4 linked regions of the Homo sapiens genome follow. The protein of the gene in region 4 purifies or fractionates together with the protein of the main gene of each other region. This does not show direct contact. Each region holds a gene or a part of one and is shown on either strand. Other genes may lie near its edges.

Evidence for each region.
Region 1: the proteins of TANC2 (region 4) and RBM45 purify together in Homo sapiens (affinity purification with mass spectrometry; one large-scale study listed by BioGRID and IntAct). This does not show direct contact.
Region 2: the proteins of TANC2 (region 4) and RALGPS2 purify together in Homo sapiens (affinity purification with mass spectrometry, with the first as the bait; one large-scale study listed by BioGRID). This does not show direct contact.
Region 3: the proteins of TANC2 (region 4) and KIF13B purify together in Homo sapiens (affinity purification with mass spectrometry, with the first as the bait; one large-scale study listed by BioGRID). This does not show direct contact.

What each region holds. Positions count from the first base shown.
Region 1 is NC_000002.12:178,118,937-178,122,436, reverse strand, and holds part of RBM45 (RNA-binding protein 45), read right to left. Parts: intron 2,151-3,500; coding exon 2,028-2,150; intron 1,264-2,027; coding exon of another isoform or gene 1,258-1,263; coding exon 1,078-1,257; intron 1-1,077. UniProt on the Homo sapiens protein: RNA-binding protein with binding specificity for poly(C). May play an important role in neural development.
Region 2 is NC_000001.11:178,723,744-178,728,043, reverse strand, and holds the start of RALGPS2 (ras-specific guanine nucleotide-releasing factor RalGPS2), read right to left. Parts: upstream 2,801-4,300; 5' UTR 2,625-2,800; exon of another isoform or gene 1,760-2,624; intron 1,299-1,759; exon of another isoform or gene 1-1,298. UniProt on the Homo sapiens protein: Guanine nucleotide exchange factor for the small GTPase RALA. May be involved in cytoskeletal organization. May also be involved in the stimulation of transcription in a Ras-independent fashion.
Region 3 is NC_000008.11:29,144,571-29,148,070, forward strand, and holds part of KIF13B (kinesin-like protein KIF13B), read right to left. Parts: intron 3,033-3,500; coding exon 2,822-3,032; intron 1,971-2,821; coding exon 1,808-1,970; intron 1-1,807. UniProt on the Homo sapiens protein: Involved in reorganization of the cortical cytoskeleton. Regulates axon formation by promoting the formation of extra axons. May be functionally important for the intracellular trafficking of MAGUKs and associated protein complexes.
Region 4 is NC_000017.11:63,420,735-63,424,234, forward strand, and holds part of TANC2 (protein TANC2), read left to right. Parts: coding exon 1-1,221; 3' UTR 1,222-3,500. UniProt on the Homo sapiens protein: Scaffolding protein in the dendritic spines which acts as immobile postsynaptic posts able to recruit KIF1A-driven dense core vesicles to dendritic spines.

The DNA.
Region 1 (3,500 bases), on a different chromosome or scaffold from region 4:
AGTGAGTATGTGGGGGTGTCTGTATGAAGGGTGGAGTTACCTTAGTCCTGTTGGTCCACATGACCAAACTCACGTCACTACTTCTATGTCAATAGCCATGCCACTCTAAAAGGACTAAATCAGGTATCCTTACAAAACTGGAAGAGATGCCAACCAAGTATGATTTCTCTCTACCACCCCTCACTAACAAAGAAAAAAAAACCCCTTAGATTTACTGAGTGCCCTATTACATGCCAGAACTTGCATTAAGTTATTTTACATATATTATCTCTAATTCTTACCTAACCCTGGCAAAGAAGGTATCAATGATCCCATTTTACATACGAGGAAAGAGAGGCTCAGAGGGGATAAGCAAGTTGCCAAGGTCTCAAAGCTACATGTCACTGCTGGGATTTGTACCCGATTCTATGCAAAATGGAATGCCAGACTTTCCCATTATGCCACAATGCCTCCATTAACAAAGAGCCTTAATAAAATCAAAAGCTTAAAACACAAAGATGGGTTAGCTAATGTTAGATAATGGGTTTAATCAATTAACTAATTAATAAGTTCAAATGGCTGATATTGGAGACTTGCTTCCATTGAGAATTGGAAGAAGCAGGAGAGAAGCAGGGCATTTAGATGCTTGGAATGAAAGGAAGGAGGGGTATAAATTTAAGAGAAAGAGATCTAGGGATGAATGAGGAGGAAATTTTGTGAGTTTCGTAACTTTGTCTAGCATTAACCAAAAGAGTACATAGAAACAGAGGCTCTATCCAGAGGTATTTTTTGTTATGCAACTGGAATACAGAATGTTATATTTTGTGGGAGTTAAAATATATTTTACAGTGAACAATTTTGTAAAAAGAAGATATATTTCCAGGGCTTTGTTTATTAAGGTATCACCATATTTTGAATTCTAAAGTAGAGAAAAAGGAAAGATAAAATTCCTGTCACATGAGCAGTACTTGACATAAAAGTGCCACTAGAGAAAAGCCATTTTAACAAAACTCTGTGTGTGTGTGTGTGTGTGTGTGTGTGTGTGTGTGTGTGTATATATACATATATATATATTTTTTAATGTGAACATTATTTTACCATAATTTGAATAAGGATCTCGTTGAACTTCACAATATTCCAATCCTGGTACTATATCAAAAATGCTGAAAAGCTGTTCTTCAGTGAAAGGAACTCTTGATACAACTGACAAGCGTTTGGAGATTGCTTCCTGGCCTCGGCTATCATTCTTGTCAAAACTTGAAAATTCAGATTGTTGTTCTCCGACAATATAAAAAAAAGTAAATCTTTAGATTTCTACACAGCCAACAATTCGCTTAACATTTTAAATACTAGAAAACAGAGTCCATTGTACTGAATAAAGGCACTGTATTTTGTAGTACGCTTCTGGTCATCAGAACTACCGATGGGACTAATGACAAGAAGAGACAACTCTCCCCACTCCCCTACCTTTAATGCAGAAATATAAGAAGAAATGCATAGTCTAATTTCACAGAAAGAAGTTTAGTATGCAAAACTGAAAAATATGGTAAGTATTTTACCTGAATGTTTACGTCAAATAACATTCACAGGCCTTACTTTCATTACCCATTTTCCCCTTTTTCTATTAGAGCTTCTACTTTTACCATTCCTCTCCTTTCTGTAGCCCTAATTTTAAAGTAGCAGTAGTTCTGGAACAAAATTTTAGGACTCATACGGAGAGGATCTCTACATATGTCTTTTTAAGTTTTTGGTCAGCTATATAGAGGCAGAAGCTCACCCAAAAAAGTGGCAGTGGTAATAGTTTCTAATATGAGGAATGCGTAACTTAACAGAGAAAACTATAATTAGAAATCAGTTAAACAAAATAAGTGTTAAATATTAAGAACTTTAGGAGTCATAATCCACATTTTAGGAATAAAAAAACTACATTTAAGATTTTTATTCACTAGGTGAAATTTATAGATGCCCAATAACAGAGTATTCTTTAAAACCCAAATTAGATTGCATATACTACATTATACTATTAAAAGTAAAGGTTGCCTACTTACCAAATGGAAACATATTTACTCTAGGTTCATGTCCCAAAGCTTCTTGCCTCATATTACTATAATAATCTTGTTCAGAGGATTCAGATGCTTTATTTTTAGGTTCAGCCAAGATTGCTCTAAAACCTGAAAAAACCCCATGAATTTCAAGTTTCACAGCAAATTTAACATACCTGCAAATATACTTGATTGCTAGTGCCTGACTCAGCTTTATAAATATAATTGTACAAAGCAAAATCTATACAATGGCCATCTCCTCCAGACCTACTTCTTTGCTTTCTGGAAGATGGCAAAGAGTAAATGACAAACAGCAAGTATCCCAAATTACGGGTCAATGTAGACATGAAAGATCAGCAATTCTATGCTATCCTTTCCCATCTCCCCCTATTACAGATAACATCGTCATTCATTCACCTAAGCTCCTCAACATTAAAATCCTGTAGGGCTTCTTTATATTTAACCTGTCACCAAGTTTCTTCCTTTGAAATGCACACAATTGGAATATGCTATCTTTTACTCTAACTTCCCTGCCTCTGTTTTTAATTTAGATTCTCTTCAATTAATTACAAGAGCCCTTTAACTGTTTTTTTTGCTTCTGGATCAAGGGTTCTTAACTAGGGGTCCAAGGATGAGCTTCAAAAGGTGGGAAGATTCCACAAACCCTCTGACACTTCAAACAAAATGCTTATTATGCATTTATGTGCACATGGGCATATTTCAAGGGTTCAGTTTTCTTCACATTATTCAGTGGCTTAAAAAAAGGATAAAACCAGCCAGTTTGAATTCTTCTCTGGAAATCTATCATTAATACAGTGGGGTTAGATCAACTGTTCTTACTTTTGTCTTTCTAAACAATCTACAAAGGAATCCTAATGCGGACTAACCTTGAACTTTTCCTAACCTCCAATATATGGTTCCCATGTTCCAATGTACCTAGTTAACTGTGTCTCAGAATGTCTCAGCAGAAATACTGTGCTTTACTCAGACAGCTGCCTTCACAGCACCAAGCAAAACACATGTTTATTCCTGGCATTGTGCCTCTGCTAGCACTGCTCTCACCTTCTGTCCTGCCTCCTCGACACCAGACACAAGTCCTACCCCCTCGGCATGTGTTGCCATGCTCATCCAGCACTTGTTTTTCACCATTGACAGACTCTACCATACACTTATGAACATTTTTTTCATTTGGCAAATTCTTACTGAGTCTACTATAAATGGCATTTACTTTTATAGAGAGCTTAATAAATCTTTATTGAGGGCCTATTATTGTACTAGATACCTGGAGTGACAGACAAATAAGGCATACTTCTTGCTTTCAAAGAGCCTTTAAAAAAAGTTCTTCCATTATTCTTTATTTTTTGCCTATTAGATCTTGGCTACCCAATACAGCTATAAATTCCTTAAATGTGAGGGCTGCCATATACTTCATCTGTATCCCTCTACTTAGCATATTGATCAGTATACTGCAGGTACTCA
Region 2 (4,300 bases), on a different chromosome or scaffold from region 4:
AACCCAAAGTATATAAACATAGGCATATTCTAAAAACAATTGTCTTAATGTTTTTGTTCGCTAGGCAATAATTCCCACAATTCTCAGAAAGAAAAAAACAATATCCTTAACCAAAAAGTTATCAGAGGAGTTTCTACTTCTTAAACTTTTAAACAAACATATTTGCCCACTTATCATTTAAGCCCCATCAGGGCTTAAATGATAAGCCCTGTTGTGTCTCCCCTGTTGTGTCCCCAACCTCTAGGGAACTAACTGGCACCAAGTAGGTACCCAATACACATGTGCAGAATGAACTGAGTCTCTGGAAAAAGCTTAAGTGTTTTAAGTTGCAACAGGACAATTTCACCTATATATCCATCATTCACTACACTGAACTCTAATGACGTAATAAAAAGACTCGTACCAGGTATTTAAAAACACACACAAAAATATATTACTCACATATGTATCTGACTCACAAAGCCAGTTTTTCAGTTATGTTTTCTCTCAGGAAAATTTGTTGTATTCTTTCTAGTATTACTAATAAATATTAGAAAAGCACGTTGTGTTCTGCCAATGCAAGCATTATCTTCAAACTTACGTTGCAATCTGAAAAAATTTAGGCAAACTAAACAGTATTTCCAGAGTCCTGCCCCAAAGTATTACTAAAAGTCAAATTCCTTAATTCAATGAAAAGTGAAATAACGCACAGTGGCGCATGCCTGTAGTCCCAGCTTCTTGGGAGCCTGACACGGGAGGATCGCTTGAGCTCAGGAGTCTGAGACCAGCCTGAGCCAAATAAGGAGAACCTATCTTAAAAGGAAAAAAAAAAAAGTGGAATATAATGGGAAAAACGCACATCTTACCGTTCAAAAATTATGCTGAATTTTAAAAAGAAAAAATGAACTACGCTTAAAATAAATACACTGAAATTGTTTATCCCAAATGGCATTAATGCCCTTACATTTTGATATTTAGATCTGCCTCAAAAGACCTTTGAAGCTACATGATAAACTTCATGCCTACAAAGCTTGAGTTAGAGGTTATCTTTGTTAAAATAATACTGTTTGGATGCTCAGTTTTGGAAGTTTCCTCATAATTCTAAATTAAGATATTTAGCCGTAAGAGTAATACACTTATGTGTATGATTCTATAGCACTTGTTCTATAGCACTTGTACAAGCATAATGATCTTGAGTGGAACAGGCTTTATAATGAGCAAGCTATGATCTGTCTAACAGCGATACTCTGCAAACACGGGCTGAAAAGTTTCCTAAAATTCTGATGGTCATCTTCAAAGAAACTTGAACAGGAATCGATCTAATGGTGGACACAGAAAAATACCCAAGTCAACTCATGAACACTGGTAAGAAAAGGCTCTCTATAGCAACTAAAGTGTTGGGGAAAAAAAATCCAGGGAGCATAAACGATAAAGCTCAATTAACTGCTGCTTGTGTGATTCCACTTTATGGTCTTAAATACACAGTAGGCATTAGATATTTCTTTTGGGGTTTTTTTTTTTTAACAGAAATTTAGTATTTCAATTGCCCCTCCTCCACAGCTAACATCAGTGCCCTTTCTTCCTCCTCCCTTACCCCTCCCAACTCAAACAAATTAACATTTGTACTAGGTACCTCCTATCAGCTCGCAGCTTCTTCCCAAACACGCCCACGTACACTGAAACTGGCTTGCGTCTACACAACACACAGCTACAGGAAAAGAGCTTCGAGGGGGGAGCTGGGGCGGGGGGTTAATAATTCGCTCCGCACAGGTTTACGGCTATTTTCCAGAAACTAGTTCCTCGCTCGTGGCTCGCGTTTCTTCCAAATCACCTCAAAAGCACGGTGTTTATGAGCCTACCTAATCCGATACTGCAATGGAATTCCGGATATTTGCAGACAGATCTCCCGGCTTTGCAAGTGTTTGATGAGATACGTTCGGAATCTCCTTTTTTTTCTAGAGCCCGGTTCCAGGCCGTAGAGCAAGCCGACCTGGGGCTGCGGCCCCTGCCCCACACCCGGCCCGCGCGCCCGGCCCGAGGCCAGCACAGGACGCAGCCCCTCCGGGGCCGGGGCTGGCGGGGGCCGCTCGGGCTGCGGGCCGCTCTGCAACAGGTCACCCTGACCGCGACTCCGCGGGTTCGCGGGCGGCCAACTCTGCGGCCAGGCTTCTGGGCGCAGCCGCCAGGGCCAGGGGAGGGGGTGTGGCCCGGCTTCTGCTGGTCCTGGCTCCGAGGTCCGGGATCGGGCTCACCTGAAGGAAGACTGAGGCGCCGCTGGGCGCCAGAACAGAGCGGGCGGAGGCTGGGGGCTTCCGCCACCCAAGAGGGAGAGCGAGGCGGGTTCAAGGGGTCGCAGCGCCCCCGGCTTCAGGACGGCGCCCCCGAGCGGGGACCCCACGGCCGCTCCGACTCTGAGAACCCGCGGCCGAGGGAGGCGCGCCGCCCAGCGCCCTTCTCCCTCAGCCTCAGCCCCAGCTCCGCAGCCCCCTCCCTGCGCGCAGGGCGAGCAGCCCCGGGGCCCGCGGCCGGGAGAGCCACACTCCGCAGCGCCGCCGCCGCCATTCCCCGCGCCGCCCGGGGGGCGCCGCGTACCCACCCTCCCTCCCTCCCTCCCCCGCACCGCCCCGCGGCCTGAGCCCACCGACCTGTGCAGCCGCGGCCGTCGCCTCAGAGGACGGAAAGACGATGCCGGCCTCACGCTTCACCGCCACGGCCGCCGCCGCCTAGAGTAGCACTCGTCGACCCGAACAGTCACCGTCTCTCATTCAGCGCCCGCAGCAGCCGCCGCCGCCGCCGCCGCTGCCGCTCGGGGGAGGAGAGTGAGCTGGAACCACCCCGTCCGCGCCAGGGGTGGGGGACGAGAGCGGACCTGGCGGGGGCGCGCGCCAAGCGGGCGGGGCGGAGCCGCGCGCGCGCGCGCACCAACGGAGCGCGCTCGCGGGGGCTCTGAGAGCTGCAGCCGTCAGGGTCTTAACCTCGCGCTTCCCGCCCGCAGCTTTTCGGCCCCGCGGAGCCCAACTGCCGCCGGTGATCGGTGCCCGCAGCGCGCGCAGCCATCCGCAACCCCACCGCCCGGCGCCTGCTGAAAGGAGGGGCTCCCACCGGCCAAACAACGGGGGGGGGAAGGGGTAGGAGGATGGACAGGTGGGGCGTCCGCCACCGCCTGGCCACCCGCTCCCGGAACGCGGCCCTCTGTGAAATCCGCCGTGATGTCTGTGGCCTTCAGCGCCGGGCTCTTCACCTTTAAGGCCAGAGAACAAAGTCTGGAAGCACTTGGCCCCAAGATCAAATATCCAGCCCACGCCAGCGGTGTTTTTAGAAGTCACTGAGGACAAATGAGGGGGCTCCCAATGTGGAGAGTCACCCCACTGTCTTAGATAAGGTCATAAATTATGGTGATCAACATCCTCACACATTAAGATTCGGGAAGTGTTAGAAGTAGGCCTTTGTAAGATGTTACGCAGGGTACTACCCTTGACTTAAGGAGCAAATGACAGAAATTGGGCGGAAAGGTGTTGTTTCAGAGTCTACTAAATGGGTGGCCTACTTAAAGCTAGCACCATTTGATGCAGTGTGACTGTTAACGGAAGGTTTTAAGTGAGCCGCCTTTGTATCTGCTGTCATTAGACCATTTGGAAATGGATAATTATTTGATGATCTGCAGTTCTTTCTCTAGGCAATGTGCAGTAGAATGTGGAAAGAATACTATGTACCAGCATTAAGTGTAAAACATGAAAGGACCAATAATTCACTATTCCCATTTGGTTTCTTTCTTCCCTTTAATAACCGCTAAACAGAACTGATTAATCTTGAACGTTGAAGATTGCTAATTATTTCCTCCTTTGATTGCCTTCTGTCATAGCCCTTTTACTCTAGTTGGGGACGCTAGAATGCCCTTCAACCTCCTTCTCTCAAATAGGGTTACTTTAAAGCACCCCAACGCAAAGTTAAGTCAAAAAGAAAAACAGCGAGGATAGGCAACAAAGTTCGTAGTGTTTCATTTTTATTCCATTTTACTTTCAAAGAAAGTCTTGAATCATGACGAAATCACTAGAAGAAGTAGAGCAATCAAAAGAAGAAAAAAAGCGTTCCCCCCCACCCAATATTTCAAATGACAAGAGTCCAAAAAAGAAAAGAAAAAGGAAGATGATTGGTAAAAAGGAGGGAAGTGCATTATGTATACAGAAAGTTTTCGCATAGATGTTAGTTGCTTCAAGTCCCAAATAAACAACAACTAAATGAATTAGCACTTGGAGGAAAAACCCCTTCCAGTTATTGAGTTGGGTAAATGTTTAGTCTTCTTAAAGTGTTACTAAGAGAT
Region 3 (3,500 bases), on a different chromosome or scaffold from region 4:
AATTAAAGGCCCTCCTACCTTATATTCAGCCAGCCAGTGAATAAATACAAAAATCCCATTTGTGACCTGTGTGGGTAGTGGCTTTCCTGGGGGAGAATGCTGGACCTGGGACTATAATAGCAACGGGCAATATGGTGCAGCTACCATAACTTAGCCCTCTTGCAAAACTGGAAATAAGAAAAAAATTCACCAGAGAAGAGTTCACAGAATGGACAGGACTTTAAACAACTTTTCAAATACCAAAAAATAGTCTGTTGCACGAAAGACTACAGAGTCAGCCTAACTAAGGAGAGATGCCAGGCGACATGAGTTCTTCCAGGCGTTGACATGGCTGCCCCAGTGCAGAGCCACACCTTTCAACAAAGCCCAAAAGAGGTTACGGAGAAAAGGGCTGCGGTCATGCTTACTGGGGAAAAATCTTTCAGGTTTCTGCTTTTTTCAACTTATACACTATAAAATCAAAGAGGATCTTGTACTTCTCAGCCTTCAAGGAGAAACTAGGCCCTGAACCTTCTCCTTGTGACTGGCCTTCCTCTTCGGTTTTTGGTGAGTCCTACTGTACCCAGACTTTGCCCTACAAATACTAGTGTTCTAATTAAGTAAAAATTTTCAAAATACACACAGAGTATACAAAAACAATGATCTGTAAAGTAACGATCATATCATATTTACAATACCTTTCTCAAAATACTAAGAATCATATTTGCCAAATATCTAACCCTGTACAAAACGCTGACCTTGATGCTATGATGTCATAGGGAAAGATGTAATCCTTGCTATCAAATTAGAATAATATCCGCCTGTAATCCCAGCACTTTGGGAGGCCAAAGCAGGTGGATCACTTGAGGTCAGGAGTTTGAGACCAGCCTGGCCAACACAGCAAAACCCCATCTCTACTAAAAATACAAAAATTAGTCCAGCGTGGTGGCACACACCTGTAATCCCAGATACTGAGGAGGCTGAGGCAGGAGAATCGCTTGAACCCAGGAGGCAGATGCTGCAGTGACCCAGGATCACACCACTGCATTCCAGCCTGGGTGACAGAGTAAGACTCCCTCTCAAACAAAAAAAAGAAAAATAGAATATCCAAGATGGATTGATTAAAGTTTTGCTGTGTTGACTACCGCAGGCTAAACAGAACACACGGATCCACAAAAAATTCATCTGAATAGAAAATTCTACCTAATCCATCAAAAATTATGTATGAATGTGATCAAGAGCTAGAAAAGAACCTCAAAAAAAAAAAAAAAAGATGAAGGAAAAAAACCCAACTGAATGGCAAAGATAGAAGATTGTGATGGGACTTTCCCCCTACATTTTATTAAATTTATTATACCAAAAAAAGTATGATCCTGAATATATACATGACACCATGACACAACTAATGAGCAGTTTTACAGAGCAAGCTATTCCAAGTAGAAAATAACATAAGCAAAATGAACACCTAACTTGTGGAGAAGGGGTTGTAGAGTGGTAGCATAAGGAAGGAAAAAAAGACATTCGGGGAAGATTAATCAGAAAAGACTTCTAAGAAAGAATTTAAACAGATTTGAAGGAAGAAAGTTGAGTGAAATGAACTGTCAGGGCCAGGTGAGATGCAGAGTATATTCCCCTAGCAGATAAAATATACATACACTCAAAGGTAGAGAATGGAAAAGGAAGTCAATTCTACCCAAAAGCATGGAGGACAAAGGATCTGGACTTGGGGCAGGCACAGACAGGGATCTGAAGCTTAAATAACACCAGGAAATATCAGGCGATCTTATCCAATGAGATCTTTGTTTTTTTCAAGGAACGGCAACCTCACCTTCCTGTTGGCATCCAGGCTGGAGGCTGGAATCTGTAGGGTAACTTTGTATTCTGTTCTTTTATCCAGCTCCTCAGCAATGTAATTAGCTTCTCTCACCAATAGATTGGCCTTAACAATTTGTTCCCTCAGCCTCATCAGGCTGTTATTCAACGTTGCTTCTCTAAAAAAAAATAAAGAAGCGGCAGAGGTAGGGAAGAGATTAACACAAAGCAGCTAGTCAGAAAATCATACAGTGGTAGTACATCATTGCCAAAGTGTGAATTGAGCTTTTTCCGTGGTCGTCTGCACGCAGGGACTGTGTTGCTGACACTGACCCATGCACACGCTTGAACCTCAACTACACGATAAGCACTGGAAAGCAGCCACACAGCAAGCCGGCTGTAGATAACAGCAGTGCCCCTGTATGCAGATCACCAGGGGATCTTCATCAACTCAAGATTCTGTCTCAGCAGGTCTGAGGTGGAGGCCTGAAATCCTACATTTCTATCAATCTCCAGGTAAAAGGGAAGCTGCCTGCCTGCAGACCAAACTTTAAATAGTATGAGGTTAGTGAAGTACAGTCTGCAACCATGGGATAAGGCATTTCAATGCAATGCTAATTAGCCCATACAGAGATCAAATTTGCAATCTGCATCTCATCAGCACCATGCTTTACCTACCTGAGCTAATCAGTCCAGATAACCAACTTTGTTTTTCTAAAAATCATCTACCCAAGCTTCAGAACCTAAAGCATAATACAATGATCAAGTGTACTTCTATATCCAAATCCAAAAGCCATACCAACTGAAAATGGAGCAACACCTAACACCAACAGTTTTAAATAATGCAATATAAATGGGCAATTCCCCTTTTAAAAACAAATGCAAAGTGGTTCTTGGCTGTTAACACTTATCTTTTAACATAATTCTTTTGTAAGCACCATCTTAATGTTCCCATTTGACACTTTCCCTAGGTGTGTTAGAGGTGGCAAGCCTGAGCTATAAAGTTAACAGGCCCCTCTGTGCCGCCTACCTCTCCTCAGCCCACTGTCTTAAGCGTTGCTGAGCGCTGGGCGAGTGGAAAGAAAACCTGTCCATGCTCCGGCAGTTCTGCTTCTCAGGAGACAGCCTTCTCCGGAGCTGCTCCAATTCGTGCTCATACATAAGCCTCTGGCGCTCCAGTGCAGATCGTTTTTCTTCTTCATGCTGTTGTTCTAAGCTGTTTAATATGGACTGCATCGGATCTAAACACATTTTTAAAAAAGATACATGATCGAGAGTTACAACATAATAAACTTCAAATGTTGTTCTATATGGTAATGTTGTCTGTCATCTTAACTATACCACCTAATACTTTAAAGACAATTTGGCATAAACTTAGCTTTCCTGACTTTCAATCACTCATGTTGTTATATATTCTCAGACATATCCTCAACCATCTTCCCTGCAGAAAAAGCAGGTCTATTATATGTTCTACACATAACCTAAGACATGGCGAATCCTCCAGAAATACAATCATAAGCCAATGACAGGCAAGTTTCTAAAGCAGAGAAATTTGACCGGGCACAGTGGCTCACACCTGTAATCCCAGCATTTTGGGAGGCCGAGGTGGGCGGATCACCTGAGGTCAGGAGTTTGAGACCAGCCTGGCCGACATGGCGAAACCTTGTCTCTATTGAAAATACAAAAGTGAGCCAGGCATGGTGGTGTGC
Region 4 (3,500 bases):
GCCCAGCGGCCCTACCAGATGCCTCAGCTCCCTGTGGCAGTTCCCCAGCAAGGGCTCAGGCTACAGCCTGCCAAGGCCCAGATTGTGAGAAGTAACCAGCCCAGCCCAGCCGTCCATTCAAGCACCGTCATCCCCACAGGAGCCTATGGCCAAGTAGCCCATTCAATGGCCAGTAAATACCAGTCTTCACAAGGAGACATAGGAGTCAGCCAGAGCCGGTTGGTTTATCAAGGGTCAATTGGGGGAATCGTAGGGGATGGAAGGCCGGTGCAGCATGTCCAAGCCAGCCTGAGTGCAGGCGCCATCTGTCAGCATGGAGGATTGACCAAAGAGGATCTTCCACAGCGACCTTCCTCAGCATACCGAGGTGGCGTGAGATACAGCCAGACACCACAGATCGGACGCAGCCAGTCAGCATCCTATTACCCAGTCTGTCACTCAAAACTAGATCTGGAGCGCTCCTCCAGCCAACTAGGTTCCCCTGATGTGTCGCATTTAATCAGAAGACCTATCAGTGTCAACCCTAACGAAATCAAACCGCACCCGCCAACTCCCAGGCCGTTGCTGCATTCCCAAAGTGTAGGCCTTCGCTTCTCTCCATCTAGCAATAGTATCTCCTCCACCTCCAACCTAACTCCGACCTTCCGGCCATCTTCTTCCATCCAGCAAATGGAGATCCCACTGAAACCTGCATATGAGAGGTCATGTGACGAGCTGTCGCCAGTGTCTCCAACTCAAGGAGGTTACCCCAGTGAGCCCACCCGATCCAGGACCACACCATTCATGGGGATCATAGATAAAACAGCACGGACTCAGCAGTACCCCCACCTCCACCAGCAGAATCGGACCTGGGCAGTGTCATCTGTGGACACCGTCCTCAGTCCCACGTCTCCAGGCAACCTGCCTCAGCCTGAGTCCTTCAGTCCACCATCATCCATCAGCAACATTGCCTTTTATAACAAAACCAACAATGCACAGAATGGCCATTTGCTGGAGGACGATTATTACAGCCCCCATGGGATGCTGGCTAACGGGTCTCGTGGAGACCTCTTGGAGCGAGTCAGCCAGGCCTCCTCCTATCCCGACGTGAAGGTAGCTCGGACTCTACCTGTGGCTCAGGCATACCAGGACAACCTGTACAGGCAGCTGTCCCGAGACTCTCGGCAAGGGCAGACATCCCCTATCAAACCAAAGAGACCGTTCGTGGAGTCTAATGTTTAAAAGACGTTTTGTTGGAGTGAGACCCATATGTTTTCACTGCACATTTTCAGGCTTGGTTTCCACATTCGAGGTAGTTCTCTGGCTTAATTTCTCATGTAGTTTCTGTGTGGTGTTCAGAGGTGGCAGCCCACATGCTGAAATCCTTTGCATGCAGCCGACTGGGAAGCGGCCTCCCGGGAGCCAGGACTTCAGTTTCTCTTGTCTGTGCCCAGCCACATGCTCTCTCCCTCTCTTCAGATGCCAACGAGGAGATTTTCGTGCTGTGTGCTTTAACCCAGGGAGATCAGACACACTGGTCAGCTTTTTCCAGGAGACAATCGCTTTCACTGATGTTCTTGTTGTGTAATTGTCTTTTTCCTTTTTTAAAAAATAAGGTGTTCTTGTTCGTTTTCTTCTAGAAACTTTAGAAAGAGTGCGATGCCCCTTTGCCTTTGCATCCTTAGCCAGTGTCACCCACACAGCCAGCCGCAGCGCATTCTCATGCTGTGGCCCCTCCCCAGACCGCCAGCGCCCTGCAGCCACCAGGTCTGCAGTGTGCATTAGGATTATTGCTGGTCTTCCTAGGGGGTAAAAGGATCAGAGAGAGAAGAATTAAGTGCTAAATTGGAAGAAAACCCCAATATAATTATGTAAAATGTCACTACATTGATTTTCCAAGAGGCATTGTAGGAACATGTCAAAAACAGCCAGCCCTTTAAATATTGCAGTCAGCCAAGGAAATTAGATGAGAATTGTGGCTATTAAGAGAATTCACTGAGAGTTATTCTCTAGATTTTTAGCCGACAATTAACCACTAAAAGCTGCTGCTTTTCCAGGGTGGGGGAGGGAATGAATACATAGAAAAACAAAAAAGATTGTTCTGGATTCTCAGTGAAAGGCTATAGGAAGTCTGTTCTGGAGACATCTACTTTTTAGATCCTGATACATCACTGAGTGTCATACTCCACTAAAAGGAAACTCTAACCGAAGGCTGGCTGGTGTGACAATCCCGTTAGTTGGATCTTCACCTACAGCCAGATTTTGTTCTAGTGGCCCTCTTCCTGTAAACCCAGATGGTGTCATACAGAAATTGTTTCTTTCAGAAGCAGATTGGAATCTCTTGGGACCATGAGACTGAGTCCCAATATTTCCACCCAGGGTCATGCCCGTTGTTGTCTACTTCCATTTTGAGATCTATAGTTTGATTATCTATTATTACAGGAACTGTTTCTTTTCTTTTTCTAGGAGTGTTTATGAGAGTGTGATATTTTAAAGTCAGACGCAGCAAAAACTGTTTCAGGGTGAAGAAAGACCCCTTTCAGCCCTGTTTTGCAGCCCTGGGTGGGGGCATGAGATAGACAGCAAGCTTCTGATCTTGAAGCTTGTCTAGAAGACACATCTTCTAGGTCTCGTGGTCATTTGGTAGGCTGACCTTTGAGTGAGCGAGGCCACTATTGAGTGGATAGCAAGAACATTGGAACCAAAGCCTCGGCACAGGCCTGGCACTGGCTGTACATCAGCTCTTACAACTAAACAACTCAACTAAGCAACTGAAACGAAACAAAGGAGCATTCGTTCTCTGTTGTTAGGAATCATTCTGCTCTGTTAGGGAAGGGCTGCAGGAAGGGCAGTTTCCTGAATAAAAATCTGGCTGCGACCAGTCCCATGTGTCTGGTAAGTAAGTAAGTAAGTAAGTGCCCTTTGAAGGGATCATTAAGACACAGGGAGCATGAACCTGAGATCAGAAGCATTTCTTTACTAATTTAGATTCTGCGAAATAGACGGACCTCTCCACCCCCAAACCTAAAACAGGCCAGGACTTGTCTCTGTGCTGAAAGCAAATAGCAAGACTAACTCAAGCCCCAGCCTCTTTCCACACTCCCTGATACCTAAGGACTGCTTTCTCAGCTAGACCAGGGTGGGCATCAGCGACGCCTTCTCAGCTAGACCAGGGTAGGCATCAGCGTCCTCTCTCCATCTCTATACCCCTCTCTCTCACATCAGGAAGATGAAATGTGTAGCTCTAGCGGCAACCTCTAGCCAGGAGCCCAGTGGCCTCTCAGATTGCTTTTTGGCCAGGTCTCAGCACTGCTGGCATCTTTACATCTTACTCCTTAAAACCGCCTCTCGCTGAGGAGCCACTGCATTTTGAAGAATTTCTCAGTGTCTGTCAGGAAAGTGCTCCTGCTCATTTGGAACGCCACACACCACCCGCACTCACCTGTCCAGGCGAATGAGCAGGTCCTGTAGCTTTACAAATATGCCGCTGATGCCGCTTCTCCCCAGGGTCTCTCAGTTTT